Linked DNA regions of Homo sapiens. The protein of the gene in region 2 interacts with the protein of the main gene of each other region in a biochemical or structural test. Each region holds a gene or a part of one and is shown on either strand. Other genes may lie near its edges. The genes, in order: MCMBP, MCM3, DAPK1 and ATRIP.

Region 1 (5,934 bases), on a different chromosome or scaffold from region 2:
GTCTCGCTGTGTCATCCAGGCTAGAGTGCAGTGTTGTGATCATGGCTCACTGCAGCCTCAACCCCCCCAGGTTCAAGCGATCCTCCCACTTCAGCCTCCTGAGTAGTTGGGACCACAGGCATGTGCCACTGTGCCCAGCTAATTCTTTGTTTTTTGGGTTTTTTTGTTTTGTTTGGGTGTGTGTGTGTGTTTGTGTGTGTGCAGATAGGGGATCTCTTTATGTTGCCCAGGCTAGTCTCGAACTCCTGGGTTCAAGTGATCCTCTCTCCTTAGCCTCCCGAAATTCTGGAATTAGAGGTGTGAGCTACCTCGCCCAGCCCTCTTTTAAGTTTTTGTTTATCTGGGAATGTCTTAATTTCTCCTTAAGGCTAGTTTTGCTGGATGTAGAATTCTTGGTTTATAGTCTTTGTCTCATCATTTCGAATATGTCCTCCCACCACTTTCTGGCCTCTGGTTTCTACTGAGAAGCCAACTAGTTTCTGATAAGGATCCTTTGTACACACTGAGTCATTTTTCTGTCACTGCTTTCAAGATTTTGTGGCTTTTGACAGTTTCGATTATGATGTGTCTATGTGTGGATCTCTGAGTTTATCCTACATGGAGTTTGTTGAGCTTCTTGGAGGTGCAGAATAATTCATATTTTGGGGAAGTTTTCAACAAGTTTGGGAAGGTTTTGGCCATGTTTCTTTCTGCCTCATTTCTCTCTGCTCTCCTTCTGACACTACCACTGTGTATCTGATGTTGCATTTAATGGTATCCCACAGGTCTTCAAGGCTCTGTTCATTTTCCCTCATTCTTCTTTTTTTGTTCTGTTTCTTAGACTAATCTCAGTGAACTTATCTTCAAATTTAGTGATTTTCTTCTGCCTGATCAAATCTGAGCACCTCTAGAGAATTTTTACTATATTTTTCAACTCCAGAATTTTTATTTCCTTCTTCTAAAAAATTATTTCTCTCTTTTTATTGATACTCTCTATTTGGTGATTCTCATATTTTCCTGAAGTTCTTTTTATGTGGTTTCCTTTATTTCTTTGAATGTTTAAAATAGCCAATTTAGAGTCTTTTTGTCTAATGTTTGAGTTTCCTCTGGGACAGTTTTCTACTGACTCCCTTATCCCCAAAGTGTGAGCCATACCTTCTGGTTTCTTTGTACTTTTTTGTTGAAAACCAGACATTTTATTTGGTCAGTGGGGTCTCACTGTATCACCCAGGCTGGAATAGTAAGTAGCACAGCCACAGCTCACTGCAGCCTTAAACTGCTGGGCTCAAGTGATCCTCTTGCCTCAGTAGCTGGGACCATAGGTGTGCACCACCATGCCCAACTAAAGTTTTGTTTTTTTGTTTTTTCTTTTCTTTTTTTTTCTTTCTTTTTTTTTTTGTAGTGATGAGGTCTTGCTTTATTGCCTAGGCTGGTCAACTCCTGGCTTCAAGTAGTCCTCCCACCTTGGCCTCCCAATGTGTTGGGATTACAGGTGTAAGCCACCACATCTAGCCACAACCAGACATTTTAAATTATATAATATGGCAACTCTGCTTTGGAAGTTACTCTGGAAATTAAACCTCCCTAGGGTTTATTGTTGTTGCTGTTTGTTACTGTTGGTAGGTTGTTTAGTAACTTTTTTGACTAATTCTATAAAGTCTGTATCTTTGTCACATGTGGGCACTGAAGTCTCTGCTCTGTTAGTTTTGTGGTTAATGATTGGAAAGAAATTTCCTTAAATGCTGGGTAGTAGTCTCCCAGTCTACGGGTGAATAATAATCATAAATAAAAATAAAAGTTGGGGCAAGCCCTCAGTTCAACACTTAGCCATGCAATTTACAAGCCTTAGCCTTCATTTCCTGCTCGCACAGAGCCTCCAGGTCATGCAGAGGTGGGAGCTATGGTCTCTGAGCATGTCTGCAGCCTTCTGAGTTCCTAGGAGTTACATACTTAAGGTTTTCAGAGCCCTCTACAGACATGTCATTTCCCAGCTAGCTTTTCCATTGAAGGGTTTGGGTTAGTCTGTCTGCCGCAGCTGTTACCCAGTGTCTCAGGTAGCTAAGGTGATTGGTAATTTCTTCCGATTGTTTTTGATAAATGCCCTGGGGAAAGAGGTGGTTCATAGTAGACAGGCTTCCAGTCAGGTTAAATAAAGACAACCTTGCAAATGGGTCCTTCCAGGGAGCCACCAGACAGGTGGTCAGATGACAGTTCTCCGGGAATGGCACTTGGAAGGAGCCCTAGCCCTGTTCTCTCTCCGGTGGCTGCCAGGCTGTTGATTTTTGAAGCTACTAATTATCGCCTGGAGGGGAAGGGGTTGGAATTTAGGAGTAGGACATGTTAAAATGCTGCCAGGCTCAACATTCTTACCAATAATCACCTGGTTTTCTTGCATAAATGCTCTCTGGATTGCTGCAAGTATGGTTTTATTTCTAGTTTTTAAAAAGCTGATTTTGATCAGTGTTAACAGTAGAGACAGTTTTCTGCGGTCCCTTCTCTGCCATTTTCACTAACATCACTCTTCCTTTGTGGAAAAGCATTGTTTCCTATGCCAGTTGCTGATTTATATGTTTGCTTGACCTTAAATGAATCTGAGTTTCATTATTTTATTTTCATCAGCAGCATTATGTATGTATATGCTTTGGTACTTTCACCCATATTGCCTCCTTTGTCTAAGAGGCTGACATGCACCTTACTACATCAGTCAAGGAACCATGTTAATTTTCTTTTCCTTACAAAAATGCACATCATTTACATTTACTCTTTTGATAAAGGCAGTTGAAGATGACTTTGTGGAAATGCGGAAGAACGACCCTCAGAGCATCACTGCTGATGATCTTCACCAGCTGCTCGTGGTGGCTCGGTAAGTGGCGCACGTCCATTATTGCTGTTTCGGTAAGCTTGTGTATATGTCTTCTGAGTTATTCAGCAGTAACTGAGGCAGAATTCTAAAAACGGAAATGAACTTTTCCTTTTAAAAACGCTGTATGAAAGGGCTCATTGAGGGGGAATCGAGTTTGGCTGGTGATCTCTTCAGTGGAACAGGCATGCTGCTTGTTCTCTAAGCTTCAAAGAGTGAGCCACTTTCCAATTCTGACTCTTCAACGATTTCTTTTTAGAAGCCTAACTTGGCTGTTGACTTGTGTGTAACTACCATACGGTCTTGTCTCCTAACGTGCTCTGTGTTTTCACAAAGTATTCCTAGGTCTTAAAAAAAATTTAAAACTTACTATCCCAGCTCTAGACTTAAATTTGTTTCTGTGTTTCAAACCAGGTGTCTGTCTCTCAGTGCTGGTCAGACAACGCTGTCAAGAGAACGATGGCTGAGAGCAAAGCAGCTAGAGTCTTTAAGAAGAACGAGGCTTCAGCAGCAAAAATGTGTGAATGGAAATGAACTTTAAAGATGTAATACCTATGAAGAGTAATGGGCAAACTGTAGCCACATAATTGTAAAATTCAGATATTCATTTATACCACATTGTTTTATAGGTAATTTCTATCACAAACCAGTGACATTTCCTGAAATCAAGCCTGGTAACACCTGATGTTTATATGATATTCAGTAAGGACTTTTACCTTACTGATTTCATGGAGCTTTTGAAGTTTGTTTTATAATAATTATATAAATTAGTAATGATGTAAAAAAAGTATTTGATATTAAAAGTTTAATATTGATAATGTTGCTGATTGTACCATTTCCTTAGCTTCAGCTGAGTCATAGGCCAGACTGTTGAAATGCTGAAATGAAGAAGGTTGTTGCAGTTTCAAAGTCAGAGGAATCGTGCTTCGGATTTCTTATGTTTTCTAGTTCTCTGTTTTTCCAGTTCACAGTGGGTTGGGGTGCATTCAGTAGTCCATCTTTGGGGAACGGAGGCGTACTTGCCATTGATTCACATGACTACATGAAATTCTGTACTGTCATTTCCCAGATGTTTGGCCACAGAAACTTTTTCCCACTTAACATTTGTTAACAGCCTGCAAAACTAAACTTGTACATGGCAGTGGTTCCCAGACTTTTGTATTTTATGGACCGGTAGTAATATTTCCAAAAATCTGGGGTACTATAAGGTTGCCAATTTACCTTGCCAAGTAATCCGAATAAATCACTGTATTATCACCATTTTTTTCATAAAAGGAAAGGACAATCTATCTCTGAATAAGAGGAGTCCTTTAAACGGAATGAATGTGGCTTTTGGGGGCAAAAGAAACCAAGACACTACATTGTCTTTATTTTCTCCTATCCCAGTGCATTTGAGAACCATGCATAAGGGAATGCTGTGCTACAAAGCTGTGCCCAAATATGAAAACAAAATAGGAAACTTAAAAAGCAATACCCCCTTTAGAAAGTTTTTATTTTCTTAAATGTCATTGAGTTGCTTTGATTCTATTGGATTTTTGGCATTTTTTATGGGATCATCAGTTGGTTCCAAGTATGTTAGATCAGCTAACATCTGCTACTCCAGTAACAGCCTCGTACAACTGCAGGTAGGTTTTCTCCAGACCAATTAGTTTTAATAGAGCAAACTAACAACAGACTGTAGTAGCATGGTTATGGCAACCAGAATCTTCAGAAAGGTTAGGACATTACTTTTTAAGCTGTCAGTGGTATCAAATAACTTACCTAGTTGGAGGCAGATAAAGGATCCCTTACGTTTTTTCCTATAAGGCCTAAATTGAAATTGTTAACCAAGGAAACAGGGTCAGCCTTGAAAAATCAAGGAATTCATTGTACCTAATAACTGAAGTAAAAATAACTAGTTGTTCAACTTTTCCTAAACTCAAATCTATTTTTATAAACAAATGTAAATAATGTTTATATTAGAGTTGAACTGGTTTTCATTTTTATAACTGGTAGACTAGACCTTCCTTAAACTTTTAGAAATAAAATGAAGGCTTCACTGGATTTGTGAGGATAAAATACATTTTCTTTAATTGTCCTAGAGCAAAGTACATTAGTCACCATGTGTTTTTTGTGCCAATGTAAATTGTAATTTACCAAAGAAAAATACATACATTGCTTGGTCTTGCAGAAAAGTTCCCTTGAAAGAACCTTTCCAATAAATAAAACGTCCCAAATTAGCAGTACCTTGGGCTGTTTTTCATGAGTAAGAAGATTCACCATCCCATGTGATCTGTGTGGAAAAAGACCATGTCCTCTTGGTGGAAGACATGAGAGAGCTGAACTGAAGTGGAGGAGGTGGTGCAAGAGGGACCTTCCTGCTCAAGGCCCGCCCAGGCAGCGGAATGGAGTGCAGTGCTTGGCTGCAGAAACCCTTTGTCCCTCACCTATATATACACGGACAGTCAAGTTTGTTGCTCTAACGTAAGGCACAGCGTTAATCCTGTATGGCCAGGAAACTGAGTAGACTCCTGTGTAACCCTGTTTGGAACTTTGCCTTCTTAAAATGATTTTTCAAAGATCTCTTTCGAACTAATTTCTGTAGAGTTTAAACGTGTATTTTATCACCTAATGTTGGGTTGTATTTTCTCCCATGTTGGGAACCCTTAATATTTTCAGGACCCGGAAGAAAAGTTGGTAGAAGCAAGCATTCAGTTTTGAATGTTTGGATTTAAAGTATAGTTTCTGATCCATTTCCCTTTTTACATCATGAGTATATTTCAAAGGAGTAACATACTGGCAACAGCTAGACCAAGTGTTCAGTTATAGCAAATCTGCCGTTTACAAATTCTTTAATCTGTTATGCAAGGAATTCTCATACCCATTTGTCACTTTAAATTACAATGGTACTTTATTTTAATAATCACAAGATTTAACACGTAAAAAAAAAAGATAGCACTAATAAATAACAAAAGTGGAATGCTTATCAAAGTAACGACATAATGTTCAGTTGAGAATCAGTCACTTCAACAGAGTAAAGCTCTAAAGACACCAGACGAACCAATACTTGTTGGAATATGCCATACAACTTTCTTACTGTGGGGATTACAGGGGCA
Region 2 (7,030 bases):
CTTGGGATTCAAAAACCCCAATACTCTCCTTTCAATTCTGGGCCTACTGGACTGATACTTACCCATCCACATACACTTCACAGTCAGAGAACATAACAACCTTTAGGTAATAATGATTTTGACCATGTTCACGTTTCAGGTCCTGCCATTTTTCTTGTATTTCCCAATCACTCTTGAGAATGACATAAACATACATTATCATTTATTTTATTTTATTTTACTTTTAAAGATGAGGTCTCACTATATTGCCTAGGTTGGTCTCAAACTCCTAGGCTCAAGTGATCCTCCCACCTCAGCCTCCCAAAGTGCTAGGATTACAGGCATGAGACACTGCGCCCAGCCCTATCATTAATTTTAAAAGCTATGGTTTTCAACCTTGGCTACACATTAAAACCAAACCTGTGGAGCCCTTCTAAACCATAGCTACCAAGAGCTCCAACTCAAGAGATTTTAATTCAGAAACTCTGAACGGGGGACCATGCAACTGTATGTATAAAAAACACCATCGCATCGCAACAAGGTGTTCCCATACACTGTGGGATTGATTATAAACTGCCAGGACACAGCATGAGCTCTGGGCTCAAATCCTGGCTCTGCGATTTTCAAGTTTGTGGCTCTTGAGCAAGTTACATAATCTTTTGTACCTCCATTTTCTCATCTGTAAAATAAAGATAACTACACATTGTGAGGTAGTTACTGATAGGATAAAAGGAGTTGGTAAATACAAAGCATTTATGAGCATTCATTAATAGAAGTATTAATATGGTACAATCTTTAAAGAGGGTAATTTTGCAATCTCTACCAAAAGAAAAATGCACATAACTCTTAATCCAGTAATTTCCTTGCTAGGTATTTATACTACAGATATATTCCCAAATCTATCCACACACATAAAGGGATGGCCACTACAGCTTCATTCAAAATAGGGAGGAAAAAATGGAAACCACTAAATACCCATCAGATGGAGACTAGTTAAATACATCCCTGTGACGGAATACTAGAAATCTATTTTTTTAAAAGGAAAAACTCAACAAACCCCACGCACAGACAAATATAAAAGATTATATCTAGCACATCACAGTCATGGTAAAAACAGAGATAATTCTTAACAAGGAAATAGTGTATTTGCTGGTACATGCTTAAAGTTTTGTTTCCTGCAACACTTCAAAGCTGTTATTTCTTGGCAAAGTGACAGGAGAGAGAAGCAAGTCTTTTCGTTTTCATACTATATACCTGTTCTGTTTAGAAATTCTCCCGCCACATGCATGTAGTCCTTTTATTTAATGGACGGTTAAATATGTTAAATGGACTGTTTAACTGTACTGTTAAAAAGTTACTTTTAAATAAGGAACTTTCCAGGGGATTCTGCTGTGCAGGAATGGGTGAGGAACACTGCTCTAAACAAAGGACAATAACAAGAAAATGGCCTTACTTTTAGTCTTTGGCCTATTATTCCCCTGGGTCACCTAGAATACACTTCTCAGCCCAGTTAGTCAGCAAAACCAAATGAAGGTGAGGACAATGGTTGGGGCCTGATTCCACTTACCCTGCCGTAGACAGGGTTGGCAGCTGCCAAAACACTGCAGCGGGCATTCAGCCGAGCATGGATGCCAGCCTTGGCAATGGTCACTCGACCCTGCTCCATCACTTCATGGATGGCTGTGCGATCCATGTCAGACATTTTGTCAAATTCATCAATGCAAACCACGCCTCGGTCAGCCAGGACCATGGCCCCTGCTTCCAGACGGCGCTCTCCTGGGAAGTGAGAAGGTAAAAATACGTGCTACAGTCTAGGTTATAGGGGCCAGAAGGGAAGGATTTCAATCTCCTTCCTAGGAATCTCTCACTTTGCACGTGAGAATGCGGCAATGGTGTGTTGGCTCCGAGAAACTTAGAGGAAACCCTGGTGGGTCACCTTTTCAGCTCTAATCTAAATATTAATAGTATCTCTTTGTCCCACTTTGACCCCTAAGTAACTAGCTTCTCACAAATTTCCTTCATAGATTCTCTCTTCGGCCTCAACCTCAAGTAATACCCCAACTAGACCTCTGCCTTCTCTTCACTGGTCTCCAAATCCCTTCCTCTAGTTCATAAAATAGTACAATCTTCATTTTTATTTCCTTTCTAATGTGCTAAGACTTAATCCTTTAAATCGAAAACATTCCTGTAAATAGATGAACACCAAAGACTTAAATAATTCACCCACCATTGCTGAATACTCAGTCCTCTATAATCTGGACCCAACTAACCTATCAGCTGTATCTTCAGAACACAAGCCAGGGCACACAAAGGATCTATGCTCAGGCTCTCTGCTGGGCCTTTGCCAAGGACCCTTACACCCTTACCTGTTTCCTGGTCTGTGGTGACAGCAGCCGTCAGACCCACTCCAGAGGAGCCCCGGCCAGTGGTGGGGATAGCTCGGGGTGCAGTGCAAAGCACATACCGCAGAAGCTGAGACTTGGCAACGGATGGGTCTCCTGTAGGGTGGGGGCAGTGATGACTCTCTAGGAAACTCCCCAGCACCCCCAGCAAATTCTGCCTTTCTAGCACAGCTCTTGACACAACAGAGTCACACAGTAAGTGGATTTTAATATTTTTCCTTCGCTTTTCCCTTCACCACTCACGGAAGAATATTTATATACTATAAATCAGGAATTCCAGAGATGACAAAAAAAAAAAAGATTCATTTTAGCCTTTTGTCCTTTGATAGGACTGAAATACTGCTAAGTACAGAATATACAATCTTACATATTATAGGTCTCCACAACCACTCCATCAGAACAACAGTCTAAAGCAAATCCCCAACATCGTACCTATTAGAAGAATATTGATGTCCCCACGGATGTGGCTGCCATTTTCTAGGTCTCGTTCCACCCCTCCCAAGAGCAAGCAGAGGATTGCTTTCTTGACATAGTCATGCCCATGGATACTTGGGGCCAATGACTTGGCCAGCTGGTCAAAGATATCCTACAGGAGAAATAACCAATGGCAAGCCTAGTGAGATTCAATGGGACTTTGTGGAGCTCCACTTTATATACTTTGGCCTATAGAAAATACTTGAAGAGGGCCAGGCGCAGTGGCTCAGGTCTGTAATCCTAGCACTTTGGGAGGCCGAGGCAGGCAGATCACGAGGTCAGGAGTTCGAGACCAGCCTGGCCAACATGGTGAAACCCCATCTCTACTAAAAATACAAAAAATTAGCCAGGCGTGGTGGTGTGCGCCTGTAATCCCAGCTACTTGGGAGGCTGAGGCAGGAGAATCACTTAAACCCAAGAGGCGGAGGTTGCAGTGAGCAGAGATCGCACCATTGCACTCCAGCCTCGGTCACAGAGCAAGATTCCGTCTCACCAAAAAAAAAAAAAAAAAAAAAAAAAAAGAAAATACTTGAAGAAACACACAAACAGGTACATTGTTCCTAACTGCAAAAAATTATTTTCTAAGACAAATTACACTATCAGGCCATTATCAGAGTAGGCACAGAGCAGCCTGGATTCCAAAACTTGTTTAGAGGTTTAATCTTTAAGGGAAAAAAGTATCCCCAGGTTCAAAACATTTTAGGTTTAATAAGAACATGTACTGTGCTTGAACAGTAACCTTTATCATCACACATTCATATATGTAGTTCAATTCTAAATGTGGATATACATCCTATCTTAAAAAGATAAAAACAAGTTGGAGAACTAAAACAAAGAAAAAATGTTTAAGTAGTAATGCATCACTAACGCCTTCAGTAATAAATAGACTTACTGGTACACGGGCAAGTTAACACCTATCCTAATATTTGTACTAGGCTCATTTAGCAGCCCAGCAGGTAGCAGGTATTAAAATTGTTTAATAACAACAGAATTACTAAAGAACAAACAGCAAAAACACCCTTCATTTGTTGATTGAGACAAAAATAGAAAAAGCTAACACCAAACCTCAACCCTTCCTTCTGATCTAGTACAAAAATAGCCATGCACCAAAACACAACTCTTAGAAATCCATTCCCACCCTCAAATTTCTAAAGGATGCCCAGACCTTGGATCGGGTTTTACTGAACTTCTTGATCTTGGCTATATCCTCAGCAGAGAAAGAGGGCTGAGCATCCTTGCTCATCTGCTTAACATTACAGGCAATCAGGACAGTCCTGGGACAAACAGAATAAAGAGGAAACCCGTTATATTCAATTCCTAACATCAGTAGCTAGTACCCCTAGCAGGAGTAAGCCTTTTTAGGCTGCCAAACTAGACCAGCCAATTAGAGTTGGTGGGGAGGGGGCAGGTAGCTATTGTGAATTAAACAACTGGTTCTGTCTGTGATCCAAATATGCTGATCATGCCCCACCTCTGGAATTGACCCACAGAACTTCAGACAGAACTGTGTATGGGGACGAAGTGTAATTAAATGAGAAACTCCCAGGAAAGCCATGAGGCTGTAATCATTGTCACCAATAACTCTCATTTTTGGCATATGATGGTTAAGTATCACCAGCTTTATCTGATAGAAAAGAGGTATTGAAGGTATCCTGTCTCCCAGGCAGGTAGAGTGCTCCACCTATCAGATATAACTCTCTGGAATATGGCAAACTGGAGAAAGGATATTACCAGAAATGGAAGCTGTCAACAGCATTCCATATACTTTAAGGCAGACCCTTTACCTGAAGGTCCCAGAGGTGTAGCCTCCCTTCTTTCCAGGAAGGCAACGGTAGGTTCCCACCACCTGAACCCGGTCACCAGGCTTCGCTTTATCCACCAAGTCATCATCCAGAATGACGTCCACAGAGCGGGGGAGCTGGCCGGCTGGGGCCTTCTCCGGCATCTCCTGGATGGTGATGGTCTGGTGATCCTTGTAGACAGAAAGGCCATATTCTGTCTCAAGGGGATTGTTCTCCTCATCCTAGAAAAAGGCACACAGAGGGACAGAGTGATCTCCGTCCTGTCTTAAAAATGCCACACTCACCTGTCATGGCAAATAAGATGACTTCATAAAATTTTATTATTCAGTAACAAAAAAAGCCAAGTACCTTCTCTAGCTTTTTGTGTTCCTGTCTGTTTTAGTAACAACCATCGAATGGAAGGGGCAACCCATAGTCTGAATGGACTATGGTTATATTAACATCTAAATTAAGATTCTTACTTCCCCTCTAAAGCTGAATATATGCTTACATTCTGAAGCAGTTTTTCCACTCCTAGGTAATACCCAACAGAAACATTCACCCAAAGCCATGCATTGTAATGCTCATAGCAACATTATGCCTAGTAGTCAAAAATTTTAAAGTGTAAAAATGCCATCAATAGTGTAATGGTTAAACACGGTATATTCACATAAATGAATACTATACAGCAATAAAAATGTATGAAACACACCTATACACAACATGGATAAATCTCATAAACACAATGTTGAGCATAAAAAGCCCATAAGTATTTAAATAAAAAACAGCTGAAAGTAATCCATACTGTTAGACATCAGGATAGTGGTTACCCCTAGGTAACATGAGCCCTCAAGAGGGACTTCTGTGTGCTAATATTTCCTCATTTGGAGCTGGTTACACAGGTGTACTCAGCTTGTAAAAATTCATCAAGCTATACACTTATGTGAGCTTTCCTGTACGTATATTAAAGTTTTACTTCCTTCACATTTGAATTTTCTAAAAACACAGTTGTCACTTATTGAGTGTTTGCTATGTGCCAGGCACTGTGCTATTACTTCACAAAATTATCTCATGTAATTATCACAACAACTTTGTAAAGAAGGTATTTTCACACGTCATGCACAAGGAAACCAGGAGACTAGGAGAGATTAAGTAAGTTCCCCCAGGTCACACAGTTAAGTAGCAGAGTCTTGACTTGATACAGGTGTTAACTCCAAAGCCCACGCTCTTAAGCATCACCATAGACAACCTCCAGAAGATCTGGTCCAATGTATTTCACTTTTCAAGTAAAGAAGCTTGGCCACAGTAATCAACAGAAGAGTACTTCCCAAGTACTTCCTGAAGAGGAAATTCTAAAAAAGTGGAGATCTTAAGGTCCGAAGAAGACAACAGAATGACTTAGAAAATACAACTGGCATGAATTAAAGAGACACAGGTCCTAGTCCTTAAGGCCATCACTAACTGGGACCGTAAGCAAATTGTTTAACTTCTCTGATCTCAGCATTTCATCTGGAGGTAGACTAAATGATGCTAAAGTATGTTTAAGTTATAATTCTAAGATATTCATTCGTTTTTGTTTATGTTTCATTTCTCCACCACTGTGAAGACTAATGACGAGGACTGGGTCTTATTTATATCCTTGTCCTCCATAGCGCCTAATAGTGCTTTGAATACAGTAGTTCTCAATTAAAATTTGATGAGGGGAGGAGAGGAATTGTTTGATAGAATCAGTTCAGACATCAAGTAATCCATATAAATGATCTTTTGTCTCCAGAGGAAAACCTTGCATTGTCCTCAATCCAGATCAATCTGAACACCAAGAAGAAAGCATTTTCCTATGCCAACCTGCTCCCAAACCCGCAACAAAATATTTGTAAAGATTACATAACAGTCTAGCATTATTTTTCTACTTTTTAAAAAGCAGATTCTAAAATTATAACGTTGTTAAAACATCTATGTAGATGACTTCTTCTTTTGACTATTCCTTAATTTTCTAAAATGAACAAGTGTTTTCTTAAAAAAATAATAAGAGTTGTGGCTGGGCATGGTGGTTCATGTCTGTAATCTCAATACTTTGGAAGATGGAAGCAGGAGGATCACTTGAGGCCACGACTTCCAGTCCAGCCTGGGCAACATAGCGAGACCCTGTCTCTAGAAAAAAGTGAAAAAAAAAATTAGCGGACCTGGTGGTGCATGCCTATAATCCCAGGTACTCAGGAGGCTAAGGTGAGAAGATTCGTTGAGTCCAGGAGTTTCAGGCTGCAGTGTTCTATAATGGCACCACTGCACTCCAGCCTGAGAGAGACAGATCCCGTCTCTAAAAAAAAAAATAAGAATTGTGAAGCCAGGTGGCGTAGCACATGCCTGCAATCCCAACTACTTGGGAGGATCACT
Region 3 (7,030 bases), on a different chromosome or scaffold from region 2:
ATACCCAAGTCATAACAAGATGTATACACATACAGAAGAATGCCATAAGTATCACTATGCCTACTTCGAATCCGTGGAACGCTAAGAGAATTTATGATTGAAATTTGGTTAGTGGTGTTTCACGATTGTTATCATTTTTCTTTTTCTGTAGGAGTTGGCGATTTCAGCGTGTGGGAGTTCTCTGGAAATCCTGTGTATTTCTGCTGTTATGACTATTTTGCTGCAAATGATCCCACGTCAATCCATGTTGTTGTCTTTAGTCTAGAAGAGCCCTATGAGATCCAGCTGAACCAAGTGATTTTCTGGCTCAGTTTCCTGAAGTCCCTTGTCCCAGTTGAAGAACCCATAGGTGAGCTAAGTCCCTGCAGGCCAGTGATGTCCTACCTGTGGTTGGCCAGGAATCGCCTCCTCCTTCCAGGCTTCTGCCCTGCTCCTGCCACTGCTGCTGCTGGCCTTGCACCAGGCCATGAGCAGATCCCACCGTTTGTGGCTAACAGCTGAGCCAACTTCCTTTCTCCTTCCTGCTGGGAGACTTCCACTCTGAGAAGCTTCATGAGGCTCAAGTGTTCGTGGTATTCTGCAGGCTGTTTTTGTTTCATGATTGCATATTCCTGCCTCAAAGGCCCACTTTGAACAATCCTTTGAGAGGCATTTCTCACTTTTTTTCTACACTTGAGAGCCATGGTCATTGTATGTTGGGTGCAAAATGGAATCCCTGCTTGGATAGCTACTGCACCTTTACCTAAAGGGTACAGAATTAGTCAGCAGAATGAGCAGTTCTTCATCCTGTAATTCCACTAAGAAACAAAGAAAGAGGCCGGGTGCAGTGGTTCACGGCTGTAATCCTAGCACTGTGGGAAGCCAAGGTGGGCAGATGCCTTGAGCTCAGGAGTTCAAGACCAGCCTGGCCCACATGGCAAAACCTCATCTCTACAAAACATACAAAAACTTAGCCAGGTGTGGTGGCATGTGCCTGTAGTCCCAGCTACTTCAGGGGCTGAGGCAGGAGGATTGCTTGAACCTGGGAGGCTGTGGCTGCAGTGAGCCAAGATCGTGCCACTGCACTTAGCCTGGGTGACACAGTGAGACCCTGTCTCAAAAAAAAAGAGAGAGAAATGAAGAAAGGGAGCATGTTGACTGAATGTGTTATCTTAACTTTATTCCTAGAGGAGAGGATAACATGAAATAAACTTCCTTTGGTCTTTGCCCACAACAAGAGAAGCAGCCTTCCCTGGTGAAATGCAATACTCAGCAGTCAATTTTTTTTCTTTCCGGAAAAGCATATAATACAAGGAGTTGGGCTTAATGCCCCTCTGGGTACTGCCAGTTTTGCCTCTTTCTTTGTCCTTTTTTTCCTTTGTTTTAAACACTCCCCGAAGTGGGAGGCTCTTTGTGTGACTTGCAGGTCATTTACCTCTGACCCATCTCTGTGGTGTTGCTGCACTCAGGCGTCTCTCTTTGGTCTTGTAAGCGGCATCCCTTTTGTCACAGGTTAAATTTTCCCTCTCCTTGTAAGTAGGGGCTATTTGGAGACTTGAGAAACTGCCTTTAGTCATTCTGGTCCACTTTGAGCAATTTTCCTTGTGGCCTAGGAGATAGGCTTATCCTGTCGTTGGCCATGCTGGGGCCTTCTAGGGTCACAGTGCACAGCAGGCGTGGGGCCTTCATCTCTGTGGCATGTTGCACTTGTACCTGGAGAGTCGGCCTGGGCATGAGGCCAACACACCGCCCTCACCTGGGCAGGAGAGGCAGCCAGGTAGGAGGACCCACCCCCTGAAGCAGTTCCCTCTCTGCCCCCAGCCTTCGGTGGCAAGCTGAAGAACCCACTCCAAGTTGTCCTGGTGGCCACCCACGCTGACATCATGAATGTTCCTCGACCGGCTGGAGGCGAGTTTGGATATGACAAAGACACATCGTTGCTGAAAGAGATTAGGAACAGGTGAGGGGCAGCCACTTAGTCTCCAGCTCACGGGTAGCCTCCTCTCCCTGAGAACTGAAGCAGAGGTGTGAAAAGTACAAAGGAAGTCTCATGAACCAGAGAAAGGTTTTAAAGGTCTTTCTTTCTTGGTCAACTCTTTTCTTGTACAGGTCTTGTATCCCTTATTGGAAATGATCGGCTTTAGAAGTGTTTCTGATTTCTTATTTGTTTGGATTTTAATATATGTACATATACATAGCAGTTGAACATCCTAGTTCAAAAATTCTAAATCTGAAATGCTCTAATAACCATTTCCTTTGCATGTCTTGTCTTTGCCCAAAAGGTTTTTGGATTTTGGAACATTTCAGATTTCTGGATTAGGGATGCACAACCTTTATTTTTCATTTTTATTAAAACAATGAATCCACATAGTAAATCAAATACAAATGAAGAGCACGTGATGAAAGCAACCCCCTTCTTTCTACCTCCCAGCAACACTGCCCGGAGGTGACTTCTTTTAGCTGTTTAGATTTCAGTACTCAGTATTCAGTGTTCAGAAACACTAATCAGTATGTCTTACAATATAAGTTGCAACCTACTAGTGAGTCTTAAAATTCATTTAGGAAGTCGTGGCCAATTCTTTTTAAAATGGGATGGAATGGAATGGGATAGGATAGGACAGGAAAGGACAGGACAGGATAGGATAGATCAGATGTCAAGTATTATTTTGTAAAACGTTTGTTTCACTGATGAGTATGGGTATGTACAGGATTATGATGTAAAATATATGTTTTTACTCAGAGTCTATCAAAACAGTTTGAACCTGCAGCTTTCTATAATATGCTAGTATCTCTGATCTTGCATTATCAACTTGAGACATTTATCTATTGTCTTGAGACACTATATCTGTTGCCAGATATAAAAATGGGGCTTCTATTAATATTTTTAGGTCAGTGATGTAGCTTTTGCATTCACACCTCTATTCTTAGTCCCTCCACTTTCCACAGTATCTCTTGTCCTCACTTGTAAGGTGCGAGCATTAGGCCTCACCTTTCCTGCCTCGGGAGAAGCTGACATCTTTCCATGCTGTGCTCCTGCTGCTTCATGCAAACCTGAAGGTCCCGCTCCTATGACTCAGACTATATGCCAGTTTCCCCAAGTCTCTGCACCCACTGTGATGAGGCAGAGCCCACCAACAGCAGGGATGGGGAGGGGCCTTTGCAAGGACACCAGAACTTTCCTTCCCTCCTACCAGCCTCTTGAGCCAGTAGGAGCCTGGCCCCTCCATTAAAAGGCCTGGGGACATTGACTCACTGCTGAGGAGGCTGCTGCTCTTCCCTTAGGTTTGGAAATGATCTTCACATTTCAAATAAGCTGTTTGTTCTGGATGCTGGGGCTTCTGGGTCAAAGGACATGAAGGTACTTCGAAATCATCTGCAAGAAATACGAAGCCAGATTGTTTCGGTAAGTACACCATGGAAAGAGCCTGGACCCCTTTGTACTTCCTTCCTGGTTTGCCTCTGGTTTCAGGGAACTGCTTCATAGTAGGACCCAGTAAGAGGTGTCTGCCTGGACATGTCTTTATCCTAGTGCCCTGGGAAAAGAAAGGAAGAATAGAGAAACAAGGAGATGATGGGAGCTGAAGGGTTATTATGGGCAAGGTGGACCACTTCAATTTTATGAAATTCTTACCGATTTATTGGTTTCTTTAACAATATTTTATTTATTTATTTTATTTTTTCAGAGACAGGATCTCACACTGTCATCCAGGCTGGAGTACAGTGGTGTGATCATAGCTCACCGTAACCTTGAACTCCAGGGCTCAAGCAATCTGTCCATCTCAGCCTCCCAAGTAGCTAGGACTATAGGCACGCACCACCATGTCTGGCTAATTTTTTTGATTTTTTGGTAGAGACAGGGTCTTACTATGTTGCCCAGGCTGGTCTCGAACTCCTAGGCTCAGGTGCTCCTCCCACCTCAGCCTCCCAAAGTGCTGAGATTACAGGTGTGAGCCACCATGCCTGGCCAATTTTGGGAAAAAACCAAAAAATTCAAAAGTGACTTATTGTGGAATATTTAGAAAATTCAGAAAAGTAGAAAAACAGTCACAAACTTTTTTGAAAGACAGAAAAGAATAAATGAACAAAGGGAATGAGACTGTATTCTTGGGTTGCAAGATATGACTATTTTATTTTTCCCTAGTTATATAAATGTAATACAATTTCAGTTAGCATCTGAATGGGTTGAGGGGATTGGGATTTTTATCTTAAAATTTCCATGGAAAAATTCATTAAACCTATTATAAAGCCCCTGATAATCAATACAGTTAAATAGGAGGAAAAGCTTAGAGGGTATAGAAGTAAATCATAATATCTTTAGAAATATAATGGAAAATAAATATGTCATTTGAATTTAATGGGGTAAAGATTATTTAATAAATGAACCTGGCACAACTGGCTATTTGTCTGGAAGGAAATAAAGTTGGATTCCTACACCCTACAAAGTCCAAAAATAAATGGATTAAAGCTTTTAAGTAAAAACATGAAACAATAAATACCTTGAATAGAAATTGTGGAGAGTGTATTTTCAAAATAACTAGGGACTGAGGGAACCTGTTAAACCAAGATCTAAAACCCTAGAAATTTTAAAAGAAAATATACCTGTTTGAAAATGTAAAAATTTTTAAAATTTTTTTCTAGCAAACAAATTAAGTAAACAAAGTTGAAAGGTGAAATAGGCTGGGAAAAAGCATTCTCAATGCTTTGGACAGATAAATGGTCACACCGTAATGTTCAAAAAGCTCTCCGGAATTGGTAAGAAAAGGGCGAGCGTCCCAGTGGAGAAGTGGTGGCATTCACTCTGGAGTCTTCCTGCTGCCGAGGCCTGAGGACAAATGCGGGCAGATGCCTGTCTCCCTCTCTTACCTTTGAAGCTGCCTCTGGGTGTATTTTTTTTTTTTTTTTTTAACTGCTTTGCTAATAAGAAAATGCTGTGCTTCCCGCACCAGATTCTGGTTCTAGATGTGCTTCCAGAATTCTCGGGAAACCCTTTCCTGTCTCCAGAAAACCCTGCCCTTCACACCAGATATCCTCGTTGGGGTCCCACTGTGGCATCATCAGAAGATAGGGGGTAGTCCGGTGAGGCCTGGGAGGAATCTGTCACAGAAACCAGGGGCGGTGATCTGGGAACTAACAGTGGTCTCTGAGGGCCCCTGTGCTTCCCCACCAGGTCTGGATTGAGGCTGCATTCCTGAGGCAGGAGGGAGTGTCCCTGGAGATTTTTGAGCTGGGCTCTGGCATGATCTGCTGCTTCTCAGACACCCCCCGCCCAACCCCTAAACTCCTGAGCTCAGGCAGGTGGAGCCCACCACATCAACTGCACTCACCCCTGAGAATTTTGTTTTTGAATGCAGAGTGGAATTTAGCTGACACAAAAGAATTTGAGAGGGGAGTGCGGAATTAATGGCACGGTGTAGCCTGTGGCTTATGTGGTTTCTAATTCAGAGGTATGTGGATTACGTGAGTCTGTAACATATGCTGATCTAATTAACCAAGTTAAAAGGTTAAAAATCCACTTCAGCCTACATACCAAGAATGGGTCTAATTGGAAACAATATTTCAACAACAGTCCCCACGAATGCCTAATTTACTGGTAAACACTCACTCTAATATTGATGATGATACTCATTCTCTTTTCCTCTGTTCATAAAGTGATCATTGCCTGAGTGAAACAGTCACGAGAGAGAGAGCGAGGGAAGAAAGGAGGGAGGGAGGAAAAAGTGAGGGAGTGAAACATTAGGAGTTGGTGAACATTAGTTGATTGAGTGACTGAGTCCACAATTCCAAAAACGTTCCTAGAAGACTCAAAATCTATTTAACATGAACTAAAGAGCCTTTATAAAACTTTATATTTGAGCAATAGATGAGGCTTAAAAGCAAGTCTAAAAGACAACTGCCCCAGTACTCAACCCAAAAAACACAAACTAGCCAGACACAGTGGTGTGTACTTGTAGTCGGAGCTACTCAGGAGACTGAGACAAGAGGATTACTTGAGCCCAAGGGTTTGAGACCAGCCTGGGCAATAGCGAGACCCAGTCTAAAAAAAGAAAAAAAAACGTCAACAACAACAAAAAAACCCACTCGTTCATCAAATCACCTGCAAGGCGCCTGAATGAAAGGTGTCCTTTCCACTGTGGCTCTGCTCAGGGCACCCACAGCTGCAGGTGAGTTAACCTGTCTGGCCCTGCCCCCTCTAGGTCTGTCCTCCCATGACTCACCTGTGTGAGAAAATCATCTCCACGCTGCCTTCCTGGAGGAAGCTCAATGGACCCAACCAGCTGATGTCGCTGCAGCAGTTTGTGTACGACGTGCAGGACCAGCTGAACCCCCTGGCCAGCGAGGAGGACCTCAGGCGCATTGCTCAGCAGCTCCACAGCACAGGCGAGGTGAGCCCCTGGGAGCCCAGGCAGGGGGCCGTGAGAGGTGCCAGGGACTCAGCCTGTCCCAAATTCCAGCTCTTGGAAGTGGTGTGAGCCTGGGGAAGCAGTGTGGAAATGGTCCAGCTAACCTACAACATTTCCACACGTGTGACAAACACAGCCTCAAGTGACGCTCTGAACTGCAGTTCTCGGCTCACCTTAGGAGCTGTCATTTTGTCTTGTCGTGTTTTGCTTTTATTTCCAGAGTCTGTTAGTTTGGGAGTGCAGTGCCCACTGCCCTGGGTGACTGGGTCTCTCTTCACTCCCCCTGGGCACCAGGAACTTAATCTGCTACTCCTGGCAGCCTTCAGGATGGCTTCTTTGTATCAGCGTGGAGTCATCAGCTCCACACAGATCTCCTGGGTGGGAAAACAGTTGAGAAAAGGCAGTGAGGTGTCCTTGTGGAGGCAATGTCTGGAGATACAAAGACAGAGAACTCTGGTGCACAGATACACAGAGTAATCATAATTAAAGATGCACATTAAAAAACTCTAGCAAGCAATGCCCAGCAGAAATGATTGAGAATGGGAGGCTTTGCTCTGGTTCTGTGACATTGAGCACCAGGGCGCGGTTTGGAAACCCTGTTCTAATGGCATCATATGCCTGTCCCAGGAACGGGGGCAGTGCCTTCGTGT
Region 4 (7,030 bases), on a different chromosome or scaffold from region 2:
GGAAATCAAGACCAGCCTGGCTAACATGGTGAAACGCCATCTCTACTAAAATCCAAAAAAAAAAAAAAAAAAAAAGCCAGGCATGGTGGCACACACCTGTAGTCCCAGCTACACAGGAGGCTAAGGCAGGAGGATCACTTGAACCCAGGAGGTCAAGGTGGCAGTAAGCAGTGATCACACCACTGCACTCCAACCTGGGTAACAGAGCAAGACCCTATCTCAAAAAAGAAAAAAAAAAAAAAAGTGGGTATTTTCAGCATTTTCTGGCAAAAGTGGGAAAATATTGGGTCCTGAAATGTATATGGAACTATTTTTTACAGGTGATCATAAGGTCCACAGATTATTAGATGGCATGTCAAAAAATCCTTCAGGGAAAAACAGAGAAACTGTTCCAATTAAAGATAATTTCGAATTAGAGGTACTTCAGGCACAATACAAAGAACTTAAAGAAAAGGTAAGTGACTTAACTTGTGGTTTTTGTAGCTAATTCATTCACTTACGTGTTTAAAAGCATTGTACAGTAAAATATACAAAAGTTGTAAAACAAGTGTCTAGATTCATCCCTATGACATGGGAAAAGACTAGGGAAAGAAAACCAGAAAGTTTAGGCTGAAAGAAACTAAATTGTGAGATTCCTAATGCCAAAGGCAAGAAGAAAAACACTGTATACCAGATCCAAAAAGAGATACAAACTGTTAGGGTACTAAGATGAATTTATAGCATGTATCTTCATGTGAATAATACAACTTCATAATGGTTGCTATTTTCATTAGCAGCTTTGCAAGAAAGCAGACACTTCATATCACCATCTGTAGGTCCCTAAGAAAACCAGGAATATGTGGAATTTTAGTTGTGCAAGGTATGTGACCCAGATTTTTTTTTTTTTTTTTTTTGGAGATGGAGTCTGTCATCCAGGCTGGAGTACAGTGACACAATCTTGGCTCACTTCAACCTCTGCCTCCTGGTTTTAAGCGATTCACATGCCTTAGCTTCCAGAGTAGCTGGGACTACAGGTGTGCACCACGACGCCCAGCTAATTCTTGTATTTTTAGTAGAGACGGAGTTTCACCATGTTGGCCAGGCTGGTCTCAAACTCCTGGCCTCAGCCTCCCAAAGTGTTGGGATTACAGGCATGAGCTACCACACCCAGCGACCCAGATCGTTAATGCCTCTTAGAGCCTAAAGAATCCGGCCAGGCGCGGTGGCTCACACCTGTAATCCCAGCACTTTGGTAGGCCGAGGCCAGTGGATCACCTGAGGTCAGGAGTTCAAGACCAGCCTGGCCAACATGGTGAAAACCCGTCTCTACTAAAAATACAAAAATTAGCTAGGCATGGTGGCGGGCACCTGTAATCTCAGCTACTCGGGAGGCTGAGGCAGGAGAATTGCTGGAACCTGGGAGGTGAAGGTTGCAGTGAGCCGAGATCGTGCCATTGCACTCCAGCCTAGGCGACAATAGCAAGACTCCGTCTCAAAAAAAAAAAGGAATCTGGTCAGGCAAGGTGGCTCATGCCTGTAATCCCAGCACTTTGGGAGGCCAAGGTGAGAGAATCGCTTGAACCCAAGAGTTCAAGACCAGCCTGGGCAATACAATGAGACCCTGTCTCTACAGATAAAAGTGAAAATTGGCCAGGCTAGTGGCACATGCTTTGTAGTCCTAGCTACTCAAGAGGTTGAGGCGAGAGGATCACTTGAGCCCAGGAGTTCAAGGTTACATTGAGCTATGATTGTGCCACAGCATTCCAGCCTAAGCAACCCCATCCCCCTCCCTGGCAAAAAGAATCTGCATGCATGAGTGGCAAGTGTATGCTTAAGCTATCTTGATGAATATCAGCTGTCCCATGAACAGGCCTAGCAGACCATGGTGACATCTGGTTGCTGTGGATATATTTTGAGTACTCATTTGTCTGTTTTTCCTGTGCTTTCTCCATCTCCCCAACTACATGTTAAAACAAAGTACCTAAGTAGTTTTCTCTTACAAAGTTTTCACGAGATTAATTTGGGATTTACAGATGAAAGTAATGGAAGAAGAAGTTCTCATTAAGAATGGAGAAATTAAAATTTTGCGAGACTCACTACATCAGACGGAATCCGTTCTAGAGGAACAGAGAAGATCACATTTTCTTCTTGAGCAAGAGAAAACCCAAGCACTCAGTGACAAGGAAAAGGAATTCTCCAAAAAGGTGACCCAGAGCATTTGTTTTGCACCAGCTTTGCCTGCCCACTGAGTTCCTTTGACCAGGGTTGCCTGTAAATCTTCCAGGGAGATTTCAACACTTGTTTGTCTTAAATACTTTCTGCTATCATCTCATTGCCATCCACTCTTCTTCCAGGGTCTGGATATATTTTGGAAAGGGATTTAGATGAAACTCTATTTTGCTGTGGTAGTTGGTCTTGGCAGGAGTAAATAACTAGCTTAGCATTTCTAGAAACAGGTTTACATTAAGGCTCTTTTGCTAGATCAGAAACTCAACTGACCTGGCTTAGGCTAAAAGGAAACGTATTGGCTTCCATATCCAAGTCTGGGAAGAACCGGGGTATGCTGGGACCTTAAATGACTTAAATCTTGCCAGGACATTTTTATTCTCTATGCTATAAACAGGCTCTATACTTATGGTAGAGGGTGTGTTCTCCAGAAGCTCCTGGGCTCATATTTTATAAATACAGAGCAGAATTAAGACTTAGGGCCACATGCAGTGGCTCACACCTATAATCCAGCACTTTGGGAGGCTGAGGTGAGAGGATTACTTGAGCCAGGAGTTCGAGACCAGCCTGGGCAACTAGTGAGACCTCATCTCCACAAAAAAGAAAAAGAAAAAATGAACAAAATTATCCAGGCATGGTGGTGTGCACCTGTAGTCCCAGCTACTCAGGAGGCTGAGGTGGGAGAATTGCTTGAGCCCAGGAGGTTGAGGCTGCAGTAAGCCATGATCATGCCATTGTACTCCAGCCTGGGCAATAGAGCGAGACCCTGTTTCAAAAAAAGACTTAGGCTCCCTCATCTCAAGTTTTAAAATTCTGAGAAAGGCTCTGATTGGTTTAACTTGAGTCAGTTGTCTGTCCCTGGCCAATTGCTATAACCAAAAGCAACCAAAAGCAAAAAAATGACAGCTCCCATTCTAATAAAATAGTCAGAGGTAGGGAAATTATTGAATTTTTTTTTTTTTTTTTTTTTTTTTGAGACAGGGTCCAGGGTTTCACTCTCTTGCCCAGGCTGGAGTGCAGTGGTGCAATCACAGCTCACTGCAGCCTTGACCTCCCAGGCTCAAGCAATCCTCCCATCTCAGCCTCCCAGGTAGCTGGAACTATAGGCACACACCACCAGGCAAAGCTAATTTTTAAATTTTGGTACAGACAGGGTTTTGCTGTATTCTCCAAGCCGTTCTCAAGCTCCTGGGCTCATGCAGTCCTCCCACCTTGGCCTTCCAAAGTGCTGAGATTACAGGCGTGAGCCACAATGCCCAGCCTGTTTCTCAGGGAAAGGAAAATGCTATTCTGGAAGGAAAAACAGTAGGTATCCAGTACCTACTACAACTTTCCCTCAGCACCTCCTCATGCTTCAATCTCAAGGACATGGGATCTTATTCTCATTGTTTCATTCAGCAAACTTAGCAAACTTTAAGCACTTACCTGTGCCCATCATTAACCGCAATAGTTAACTTTCTGTATAAGTGATGAAGAGCAAGGAATTTGCGGTCAGACAAACCTGAATTTGAATCCAGGCTTCATCACACATAAGCAGTGACCTCAAGGTAATAACTTAAGCTCCCTGGCTCATTTCCCTTATCTGTTCCAAGACATAACCAGAAAGGTTGTTGGGAGACTCACACATTCTTGCACTTACTGTGTCTGGTGCTGGGCCTGGCGCAGAGTGTGCTTGGGGAATGATGGCAGTTACTGTTGGCTGTAGCAACTGCAGGCCAGAGCAGCAGGTCTCTCTATACTGCACAGTGTCTTGGTAAACTATTCCAACTACTCTGCCCAAACTTTGAGGAAGACCTGGAATTGTGCACCAGTGCGTTCGTTAATAAAGGTCAATATGTTACTGCTGACATAGGGCACCTTACCAAGCTCTATGCTGGGTATTTTACACTCATCATTCTACTTAATCCTCCCAACTATCATGAAGACAGGTGTTTTATGTTACAAATAAGTTAGGATTCAAAGACATTAAATAAATGGTGGGCTGGTATTTAATTCTTTTTTTTATTTTTTAAATTTTTTGTAGAGGCAAGATCTTGCTATTTTGCCCAGGCTGGTCTCGAACTCCTGGGCTCAAATGATCCTCCCGCCTCAACCTCCCAAAGTGCTTAGGATTACAGGCCTGAACCACCACACCCGGCCAGGGCTGGTATTTAAACCCTCACAAACTACCCTTACAATAGAGTCCAGTATCTTTTTAGAGTACCATATTGTCTTTCAGAAAGAAAGCTAATGTTTAATATTTTAGGACATTTATGTCACAGCAGACTTTCATATGTATTTTTCATTGTTTGTCTTTTACTGGCTTGTGATTTTGAAGCCCAGAGATATTTTTGTGTATATGATGGGACCACTACAAGCATGTTTCTTTTGCCTTCCAGCTCCAATCATTGCAGTCTGAACTCCAGTTTAAAGATGCAGAGATGAATGAATTAAGGACAAAGCTCCAGACCAGTGAACGAGCAAATAAACTGGCTGCTCCCTCTGTTTCCCATGTCAGGTAATGATGGTGCTGGAGGGATAGTTCAGTTTTGCATTATTTAGTAAAAAATCTGCATAACAGTGTCAGGCTGGTCCTAAATGAAGGCCATTTAGACCCCTCCACCTGGGCAGAGATCCTCTTTTCCTGAAGGATTCAGAGGTGGTTTAGATGAAGCTTGCATGGTTTGAGACATCACAGCATAAAGGCCTATACTCTAGAAATGCTGCCTCTGTATGGCACTTTATAAACATAATTCTTCAGGACTAGAAAGACCTGGAAAAATGATCTCCAAATTTTGGGGGTGGGCTAGTCTCTACTTTTATGTAATTTGTTTAACTGATTTTGTTGCAAGCATGGGTGTATTTTAGTTCCAGCTACTTGGAATATTTTTTTCTCATTTGCTTTCTGGGGACCCTTGTCCAACAGCCCCATCCTTTGTGGTCAGATGTGCTCAACTTGTTTTTTTTTTCTTTTTTTTTTGAGACAGAGTCTCGCTCTGTCACCCAGGCTGGAGTACAGTGGTACAATCTCGGCTCACTGCAACCTCCGCCTCCTGGGTTCAAGCAATTCTCCTCCTTCAGCCTCCTGAGTAGCTGGGACTACAGGCACACACCACCACGCCCAGCTAATTTTTGTATTTTTAGTAGAGACGGAGTTTCACCATGTTGGCCAGGCTCGTCTCAAACTCCTGGACTCAAATGATTTGCCAGCCTGGGCCTCCCAAACTACTGGGATTACAAGCATGAGCCACTGTGCCTGGCGCAGCCTGGAAATTTGAACAGTGTCAGTCAGGGCATCTTCTGGTTTTGAACTTTCTACCGCCTTTGTTCATAATGGGCAGTGTGTGAAACTGAACTCTCCATGCCTTGCATTGTCCACATAAGACAAGAGAACTGAGGGGATCCTCTTCACACATCAGTAACAGAAAGACCTCAGCATTATATGATCAGATCAGAGAGTTAATACTGCTTCTCTACCATAAAGACATTGGCACTAAGTTGCTCAGTTTTCAACATACCTAGTAGGTTTATCAAAATTATGATATTTATTTTGATAGCCCTTTTTCTATTTAAAGTCTTTGCATTCTATTGGAAGTCTTTTTTTTTTGAGACAGAGTCTCACTCTGTTGTCCAGGCTGGAGTGTAGTCACATGATCTCAGCTCACTGCAACCTCCACCTCCCGGGTTCAAGTGATTCTCCTGTCTCAGCCTCCCAAGTAGCTGGGATTACAGGCACATACCACCACACCAGGCTAGTTTTTTTGTATTTTTTTTTTAAGTAGAGATGGGATTTCACCATGTTGGCCAAGCTGCTCTCGAACTCCTGACTTCAGGTGATCCACCCACCTCAGCCTCCCAAATTGTTGGGATTACAAGGGTGAGCCACTGTGCCCAGCCTGGAAGTCTTGTGACTATTAAAAAATCGTTTGTTCCACATTGGCTGGGTGCAGTGGCTCACACCTGTAATCCCAACACTTTGGGAGGATGAGGCGGGCAGATCACTTGAGGTCAGTAGTTCAAGACCAACCTGGCCAACATGATGAAACCCTGTCTCTACTGAAAATATAAAAATTAGCTGGGCATGGTGGCATGCGCCTGTAATCCCAGCTATTTGGGAGGCTGAGGCAGGAGAATCACTCAAACCTGGAGGCAGAGGTTGCAGTGAGCCAGGATCACACCACTGCACTCCAGCCTGGGCAACAGAACAAGACTCCATTCCAGAAAAAAAAATAGTTTGTTCCACATTGAAAAGATGTTTTGCACCAGGCATGGTAGCTACAGAGGCAATCCCAGCTACACAGGAGGCTAAGGCAGGAAGATTGCTTAAGGCTAGCAGTTCGAGACCAGCCTGGGCAACATAGCAAAACCCCATTGCTACTTAAAAAAAAAATAAAATTACTGGCCCCAGTGGCTCACGCCTGTAATCCCAGCATTTTGGGAAGCTGAGGTGGGCAGATCATTTGAGCCCACGAGTTCAGGACTAGCCTAGGCAACATGGTGAAACTCTATCTCTAGAAATAACTCTATCTCTAGAAAGAATAAAAAGTTAGCCAGATGTGGTGGTTGCACATCTGTAGTCCCTGTGCTACTCAGAAGGATGAGGTGGGAAGATCACTAAGCCCAAGAGGTGGAGGCTGCAGTGAGCCGTAATTGTGCCACTGGGCTCCAGCATGGGCAACAGAGTGAGACCCTGTCTCACCAAAAAAAAAAAAAAAAAATTAGCTGGCCATGTTGATGTGTGCCTGTAATCCCAGCTACTCAGGAGGCTGGGATTACAGATGGGTGGATTGCTTGAGCCCAGGAGGTCAAGGCTGCAGTGAGCTATGATCATGCTACTGTACTCCAG

Evidence for each region.
Region 1: the proteins of MCM3 (region 2) and MCMBP form a complex in vitro, tested with the Homo sapiens proteins (one study listed by BioGRID).
Region 3: of the proteins of MCM3 (region 2) and DAPK1, one has a biochemical effect on the other in vitro, tested with the Homo sapiens proteins (one study listed by IntAct).
Region 4: the proteins of MCM3 (region 2) and ATRIP form a complex in vitro, tested with the Homo sapiens proteins (one study listed by BioGRID).

What each region holds. Positions count from the first base shown.
Region 1 is NC_000010.11:119,828,920-119,834,853, reverse strand, and holds the end of MCMBP (mini-chromosome maintenance complex-binding protein), read left to right. Parts: intron 1-2,753; coding exon 2,754-2,842; intron 2,843-3,253; coding exon 3,254-3,380; 3' UTR 3,381-5,414; downstream 5,415-5,934. UniProt on the Homo sapiens protein: Associated component of the MCM complex that acts as a regulator of DNA replication.
Region 2 is NC_000006.12:52,274,722-52,281,751, forward strand, and holds part of MCM3 (DNA replication licensing factor MCM3), read right to left. Parts: intron 6,954-7,030; exon of another isoform or gene 6,832-6,953; coding exon of another isoform or gene 6,820-6,831; intron 4,879-6,819; coding exon 4,640-4,878; intron 4,130-4,639; coding exon 4,021-4,129; intron 2,968-4,020; coding exon 2,814-2,967; intron 2,478-2,813; coding exon 2,346-2,477; intron 1,756-2,345; coding exon 1,547-1,755; intron 1-1,546. UniProt on the Homo sapiens protein: Acts as a component of the MCM2-7 complex (MCM complex) which is the replicative helicase essential for 'once per cell cycle' DNA replication initiation and elongation in eukaryotic cells.
Region 3 is NC_000009.12:87,696,856-87,703,885, forward strand, and holds part of DAPK1 (death-associated protein kinase 1), read left to right. Parts: intron 1-151; coding exon 152-349; intron 350-1,800; coding exon 1,801-1,939; intron 1,940-3,261; coding exon 3,262-3,382; intron 3,383-6,173; coding exon 6,174-6,362; intron 6,363-7,030. UniProt on the Homo sapiens protein: Calcium/calmodulin-dependent serine/threonine kinase involved in multiple cellular signaling pathways that trigger cell survival, apoptosis, and autophagy.
Region 4 is NC_000003.12:48,449,717-48,456,746, forward strand, and holds part of ATRIP (ATR-interacting protein), read left to right. Parts: intron 1-320; coding exon 321-454; intron 455-776; exon of another isoform or gene 777-859; intron 860-2,012; coding exon 2,013-2,183; intron 2,184-4,583; coding exon 4,584-4,702; intron 4,703-7,030. UniProt on the Homo sapiens protein: Required for checkpoint signaling after DNA damage. Required for ATR expression, possibly by stabilizing the protein.